Linked DNA regions of Homo sapiens. The protein of the gene in region 2 purifies or fractionates together with the protein of the main gene of each other region. This does not show direct contact. Each region holds a gene or a part of one and is shown on either strand. Other genes may lie near its edges.

Region 1 (3,500 bases), on a different chromosome or scaffold from region 2:
CTGTGTCTTCCACCAGAACCTTCCTGCTCCCAGGAAAGGCCTGGCCTGGCTTAATCAAATCTAATAAAAAAAATCAAAATAACAACCAGTAGGCAACCTGCTAGGCTGATCCAACTGGACATGCTGGTGGCTGAGCAGGTCCTGGAGGCCCTGTCTTGCCAGGTGTTAACTCCTTGTATGCTGGGTCCCAGTGGAGGAACCGGGGCCAGGAGAAAAGCTAGGGCAGGCGGTGGGGGCCCTGACAGAGCTCTGGCAGCCTGATTTACCAACTGGCCCAGAAGCATCTCAGTGTTTGACACGGGCATACTGGTGTGCATAGGCTGATATCAGCTGTTGGTCTGGCAGAGTCCATGCCCAAAAAACATTTGTGGACCTGAGCTGAGGGCCAGAATGGATGTGCTTGGTTTCTGACCCATGACATAGTAGCATACAGGGCATGTGGCTTTGCCAGCTGTGTTCCTATGGGCAAGGAACCATGGAGATCTGAGGTCAGAGGTCATCAATCCAGAGGTTCCCCACTGACAGCAATGAGAGACTGTGAGCTATTTCTATTATTTCAAAAATATGAAAGAACACTGTCTTACCTATTTTAAGAATCAGAAAAAAATCGATTGCTACTAAATGGTTAATTACTAGCCCTGATAAACTAGCTTCTGCCCTTCTTGCAGGAATCTAGCTTTGCAGTAATTGCACTGTACTGTTACCCTTTAGTTGTCTGCTTGGCCAAATGGACCAGAATCTTTATGAAAGTGGAAGCTGAGACTGGTCACAATTGTATTCCCAGAACCTAATTCAGCGTTGGGCACAGAGAGACTCTCAATACATATGTGCTGGATGTTTAAAAAGAAGAGTTGATGGCTACTTCAGAGTAAGTACAATTTAATTTGATCAGAAATATCTTTTGAGACTTATAAAATAAAATTGGTCATTGGGACCTGCTGATGAAACCATCATTTTTATTTTTTTAAATTTTTATTTATTTATTTATTTATTTTGTGATGGAGCCTCGCTCTGTCGCCCAAGCTGGAGTATAGTGGTGCAATCTCGGCTCACTACAACCTCCGCCTCCTGGGCTCAAGTGCTTCTCCTGCTTCAGCCTCCCGAGTAGCTGGGATTACAGGCATGCACCACCAAGCCCAGGTAATTTTTATACTTTTAGTAGAGACGGGGTTTCACCATGTTGGCCAGGCTGGTCTCGAACTTCTGACCTCAAGTGATCCACCCGTCTTGACCTCCCAAAGTGCTGGAATTGCAGGTGTGAGCCACTGCGCCCAACCAAAACCATTGATTTTAGAGATGGAAAAACTGAGGAACAGGGAAGGGCAGGCTCTTGTTCTAATATGATGTGCCGAGTGAAGATTTAGGGGTCACGTGACTGCACTGGACTTGCAGGTCCACCTCTCACTTGCTGTGTGACTGGACAAAACAAGTTGCCTGACCTCTCCGAACCCTAGATTTTTTAAGTGCAAAGTGGGGAGAACTGCACATCTGAGACCAGAAGTGGGTGTGAGGATTGGCCAGGATGACGTGTAGGTGGTGCCAGGTGATGGCTGTTCCCTCTACACCCCTCATGGCTCCTGGTCCAATGCCTTCCACTGTACCACATAGAGCTCTTTGTTAGTGGGATACAACCAGTCCTGAGGCCACATATTTCAACCCTTCTGTTTCAAGGCCCCCAGCCACAATGCAACAGAACAGAAAGGTACATACATACGCCACGGGGTCATTACTCCGTGTCCCCACGATGCTGAACTTCTTCACATATGAGTTTTCTTTCAGGGCTTCTGCATATGCCTTGAGGGTGGGGATGGGGATATTCTGCACAAAGAAAGGCAACAGAGAGAGTGACCAGAAGCCTCCTCTGGGACAGGCTGAGGCAGGTGGATTAGCCTGGCTACTCTCTGATTCCTGGCAAGTCTCTGGCCAAAAAGCTGAATGGGCAAAAGGTTTAGGCTTTGTCCCGGACGACTGAAATCTGGGGAGAACTTTCTGGTAAACAGATTTAGAAAATCCTCCCTGAAAATTTCAGATAAGACCTGTAACCTCTTTCTTTGTGCACTTGGGGGCCAGAGAAGAGGCAAAAATTAAGGCGTGTAGTATTGTGCAAAGAGCTAGGACTAGGGGTGTGAGAGGGGCTGGAACCTGGCCTTGGTCCCAATGATCGGCAATGTTCCTGACTTGCTAGGTGTCTCTGTGGAAGCCTCCTGCCCTCTCTGGCCCTGTTTCTGGAAAACAGGTAAGGGGGTTGCATATGATACTCTTTAAGAGACATCTACCCCAGGGGGTCTCTGCTCCAGCGGCACATCAGAGACTCCTGGGGAACTTTTACAAAATGGTGATGCTTGGGCCGGCCCAGAACAATAGAATCAGAATCTCTAGGGTCAGGCCTGGGCGTTGGTATATATTTTTTAATCTTCTCAGGTGAAAACCACTGATCTGGTCCAACAGGCTCACAGTGCAGAGGAGAAACTGAGGCCCAGAGGAGGCTGGGGCCTCACAGGGAGATTCCATCCCTCATGTGGCCCTGAGGCAGCATTCACTGCCAGTGGGCAGCATTCTGAATTGTGCCAATGTCTCCTACTGGGCACATGAAAGAAAACATGGCTGTGTTTTTACCAATCTCTCAGAGCGTCACTTTAGCTCCCATGGGAGCAGAGCATGGGGAGGCCAGGTGGGGGTGAACACTAGGGTGCAGGTTTCCAATCTGATGGTGCCGTGGGGCTGGCAGCTGCTTAAAATAAAGTGGAGAAGGAAAGAAAGTGGAGCAGGGGCATGGGGGGCTGGCTTCTAGTCTTACCCCCACCCCCCTCCCAGAACTAATCCACTGGTCTCTGGGCTCAGCAGGTGGGTAGAAAGCTGCATTTGTCTCTGAATTCTTCCTGCGGCGGCCTGTTCAGGGTGAGACTGCCTGTCCACCTGTCCCTCCCCTGCCCCGGGATCACATAAGGAAATGTGCACAGAGAAAAGGGCAGACAGCTTGGGATATCGCTTTGGACATTTTGGCCAACAGCTCCCTTCTGTGGCTGTAAAACAAGGCTGAATATGAACGTGATATAGCAGCAGCGATGGCACAGGGGAGGGGCCTGCCCAGGGCCTGTGTTACCCCCGAGCCTAGTGGGCACCGGACTTTTCCAGCCTTGAGATCCCATGCAGCAGCGTGTGTCTGACTCATGATTTTATCTCGGAGAATCTCTCAGTGTTTTGAATAACGTGGCAGGTTTCCAGATCAAAGCTGGGTTGGCCCGTGCTAAACATCTGGGCCTGATATCATCCTCAGAAAGAAACCAGGACTGCCAGATGCACTTGTTTACACTGCCCACCCCTCTTAAAGGCTCCCATTTGCAAAGGTTTTGTCCCTATTCCCAATGCAGAAACACCCAGAATCCAAACAGGACCCTGTTTACTCTGCACAACCAACCCTGGACCGTTTGCATTTGGGTGACATGGTTCCCCCTCCCCCAGCCACACACAGGTAAAGTGAAATAAATGGACCTTACCCG
Region 2 (4,253 bases):
CATGAGAACACGTGTGAAAAAGGTTTTTAAAAATCAGCCAAAGATTGGGGTTTCCAAATATTCAGCTGTTTAACATTCAGATAATTGCCTGCCTTCCCCCCGCTATCCCCCACATTTCGTCTGAATGCTTTGGCACGGGGGAGCCCCACAGTCTGAAAGTAACTCTGTCCCAACTCTCCTTACTGCATTTATTAAAGAGGCTGAAAGACGCATCTGCTTTTCAATAGTTTGCGGTTCTTAAGAGACCAGGAAAGCCAGAGGTTCTGACTATTCAGGAAGAAAGTTGGGTTTCCCAAAACGGGCAAGCAAGTTCGGTGTGGTCACATCTAGGTATTCTTGACGTCATTTTTGTTGAGGGAAACAGGCTGCAGTTTTTGGAGCCAGGCTAGGATGAGAGATGGAGGGCAAATCTGTCACTTATTCTTTCCTGGTGTGCCTGGAACCCACTAGACACTCAATTCATGTTTACGTGAATGAAGGAATCACAATAACGCCCTATCGCATCTGTAAAACCGAAGGGTGATTTTCCTGGGCTGGAAAGTTTAAGAAAGAAGAGAGAGCTGCGTACCTAGGGCTTAAGGGGCCTCAGGCTGGCACTCGAAACCAGGCGTTCTCATTTCCCTTTGGCATCACCCTGAACGGCTGTGCCTGGAGCTGGCGCGGGGCTGAAGAGGGGAGGAAATACATGTGAGGAAAATCAGAGGAGAGGGTCGGGAACAGATGTGGGCATAAAGGGAAGGCCTCTGACTTGAAATAAACAAATAGGAGTCCCGCAGCTGGAAGGACAAATCCTTTCACGTCGCGGGTGATGTGGGATTGGGGCGATTTTGCTCTCCCTTTGTTCTTTCCCCTGCCTTCCACGTTTCCAGGGTATTTGATTGATGTCTGTCTTCTCTGTTAAGTTATTCCACCGTGAGGAGAGAGCCGGTGGCAGTACCTGGCACGCAGCGGGCGCCCAGTATAGACCTGCTGAACAAACGAATGGATTCAGGGGCTGCTGTGTCCCCCTCACCCACCCCCCGCCCCCTATGTGTCCACAGCGCCCCGCACGTAGTAGGCGACCCCTAAACATCTGTACAGCAAATGATTTGCAAGTTTTCGGCGCTGAGCACGTGGAGCTTTGGAAACCAGGACAGCAAATGAGTGTCTCGGAGACCACAAAAGCGGTTCCGGCGCGTGCGAAAGGCGGTGGCTGGGCGACGGCGGAGGGAACGGCGCAGAGCGGGGCGCCCCGCCGGGAGCGCTGCCTGCGTGGCGCCCGAGGCGGGGGCGCGGGGGGCCGCGCATAGCACGTGCTCGTCTGGGAGCCGGCCGGGCCGAGGCGGGCGCGCGTGTGCGCGTGGGGCGTGGGGTGTGTGCCCGCGCCGTGCCCCCCGCGTGTGCTGCCGGGCGGGCGCCGGCGTGAGTCACGGCGGGGCTAGCCTTTATAACGGCCCGGAGGCTCGCGGGAGCCGCCGCGCCCGTCCGCCCGCCGCTCCGCGCTCCACCCAGCGCACCCGGGCCCCGCGCCCCCAACTGCCTCCGGCGGCCGCCCAGTCCCGAGGGCGCCATGAGGAGCCTGTGCTGCGCCCCACTCCTGCTCCTCTTGCTGCTGCCGCCGCTGCTGCTCACGCCCCGCGCTGGGGACGCCGCCGTGATCACCGGGGTAAGCGGCCCGGGCGCACCTGTCTGCCCCTGATGCGCGCCTGGGATGTGCCCAGGGGGCTTGGGACGGGGACCCTGAAGGGCAGGCTAGAGGCAAAGGGAGGGTCGCCCTGGGCGGGGACACCTGCCCCTGTCGCCCCTTGGTGCACTTGGGAAAATACCCAGATCCAAAAGCAGCAGACGGCTGGGGACACTGGGCGCGTCCTGGAAGAAACAGTGACAAGGATGTCGCCCACCACCTTTATTACCACCTTCTCCCGCTTACTTCTCCCTCATCACCCACGGCCTCACTCCTCGCATTTTTCTTCTGTTAGGCTGAAAGAAGTTTCTCTCTGAGTCTTCTCAAGTACTTTTGGAGGCTCTCCAACCTCGAACCTTAAAATTTGACGGCCCCTTCCTGAAATGCAAAGGACCAAGACGAATTCCCCAAGTGCCCAGAGTCTTAATCCTACAGTCAAAGAGTTTGCTCCCCGATGCGTCCTCCGCAGAAACCCTTTGAAATCGCTTGGTCCAGGGCCATGTGAGCGCTTTGAAAAGCAATTGTGGGAGCTTCCTTCTGGGTTCCGGGGCTTTCCCCCGCGCTCAGGGTCTTGAGGTATCCCCATAAAAGTTTTAAATTTCTAATTCCTGGCAAAGCACCTCCAGTGCTCCAGCATAATGATGGAGTAGGTTGCTGTGTAGATGTTTAAACTTAGAGACGATGTTTTCATCTTTTCTGTAAGTAGGAACTAGTTCAGTTCTCTCCCACTCTCAACAATTTTGTGTGGATCTGAAAAAATTGGGTTTGCAGTACAATACTAAATAGTCTAGTTTACATTAACAAGGCAAAACTGCTATCATTTCCTGGTTGTTCAACTTCTTTACTGTTTTTTAAGTGAGGAATTATTTCACACCTTCATTAAATTACTTCAAATATTTAAGTGCACATAATGGGATTTAAATAAAACGTCTATGTTTGAAATGTTGATACATAGATAATATCATTTGACTTTAAAGGAAGTATCTTTGTCTTGAAAAAATCAAGCTCTATTTTCTCTATATTAGTTATTAGGTTTATAGAATTTTGAAAGTCCTTTTGCTATGACAGCATTTGTATATATCCAACAGATATTTAACTGTAAGCTCTGTGATATTTATTAGAAAAGAGATTTTTTCAAAAAATTACTTGCATAGCTTTGCCAGTCCATGTGGTTGAGAAAAACTTTTTGCAGGTCTTTCTAATACATGAGAATTGAAACATGATTGGATTTTTTTCTCCCTCTTCTCCTGCTGGCTCATTTAAAGTTTCTCCTAATCCTCTGAGCCCAAGATCCCTTTGCAATATAAGTATCTTTTTGTTCCATTCACAGGACAACACTATCTGAATAGATTTGCAATGGGTTAAGGATGAAGGGCATTAGGAAACAGCTGTCTAATTAAAAATATATAAACCTATGCAACTCTTTGTAAATTTTCCAAGAACTGAAGCTTTTGTTACAAAATAAAATTTTATCACATTGGCTGTCTATCTGTTAGAGAGGCTTAGACTGGGCTTATTATATAGTTATGTGTGCTGTTTTTGTTGTTGTTATTTTAACTCAGTGTTACAAAAAGAGAATTTTAAAAATGTCTCTAAAGCAACAGGGCAATAAAATGTAGTTATGTCTCCATGACAGGAACCATCTGGATTCAAATGAAAAACTCAGTAACTTATCAAGATACATTGTGTATAGCATGTTAAACATCCAGGTGATTGAATTTTAAAAGATTTTGGCTGGATTTTTGATTGGTTCATAAAAAAAAGCTCATGGGGCCTCAAAATTCGAGGTATTGAGCATCTGTTGAAATAAAATGCTGGCTAAAACTTTCACCTGACATCCACAGTTTTTTGGGTAGTGTATGTAGGTATTTTGAAATTGATTTATATGCCCACATAGATTTGTTAAAACTATATTGTAAAAGATCATTGACTAGACATCTTATTTATGGGATGTAATGGCTACATATACATGATTTCTGGCATGCAGATAAAAATTGGAAAATTGAAACATTTACATATTGTCCTATAAAATCCAAACACCTCAAGGTGAAATTTTTAGCTTTTATCCAGATACTTTGTTTAAATAGACTGAGAAATAAATTCTAATGAGGGAAGTAAATGAACTTTAAAGCAAAATAGTTGGTTACTTTTAATGAGAAATAATGTTAAGAATGTACCCATATTTTTATATCTTGAGAAGTTATGACTGTCCTCAAAACTAAGAATTTTGAAGGACTGTTTTAGTTGTTTCCACTAATTGTACATTTAAATTTGTGCCTAGATGATAGAGGTTTTAGTTTCTTACATATATAGTACAGGATGTTTTTATCTTATCACTACCAAAACAGATTACTGCCCACGGTTCAAACAAAGCATTCTATTTTTTGTTGGTTCTAGGAAAGAATAATAGTTCTTCAGATCCATTTTCATGCAAATAGATTTAGATTTTATTATTTATTTCTATTTACTAGAGTATGGAAATTCCTCCATAGTTGATTGTTTCATTGTATGTATTTACAACTTTTATATTGAAAGCAGGTGACTTGAGTAATTACTATTGACAATTGCACCTGTTACTTGCATTTCTTAA

What was found. Proteins that work in one complex are often made in the same cells at the same time.
Region 1: the proteins of PROK2 (region 2) and TMOD1 purify together in Homo sapiens (affinity purification with mass spectrometry; one large-scale study listed by BioGRID and IntAct). This does not show direct contact.

What each region holds. Positions count from the first base shown.
Region 1 is NC_000009.12:97,564,166-97,567,665, reverse strand, and holds part of TMOD1 (tropomodulin-1), read right to left. Parts: coding exon 3,498-3,500; intron 1,819-3,497; coding exon 1,711-1,818; intron 1-1,710. UniProt on the Homo sapiens protein: Blocks the elongation and depolymerization of the actin filaments at the pointed end. The Tmod/TM complex contributes to the formation of the short actin protofilament, which in turn defines the geometry of the membrane skeleton.
Region 2 is NC_000003.12:71,782,349-71,786,601, reverse strand, and holds the start of PROK2 (prokineticin-2 isoform a precursor), read left to right. Parts: upstream 1-1,453; 5' UTR 1,454-1,549; coding exon 1,550-1,645; intron 1,646-4,253.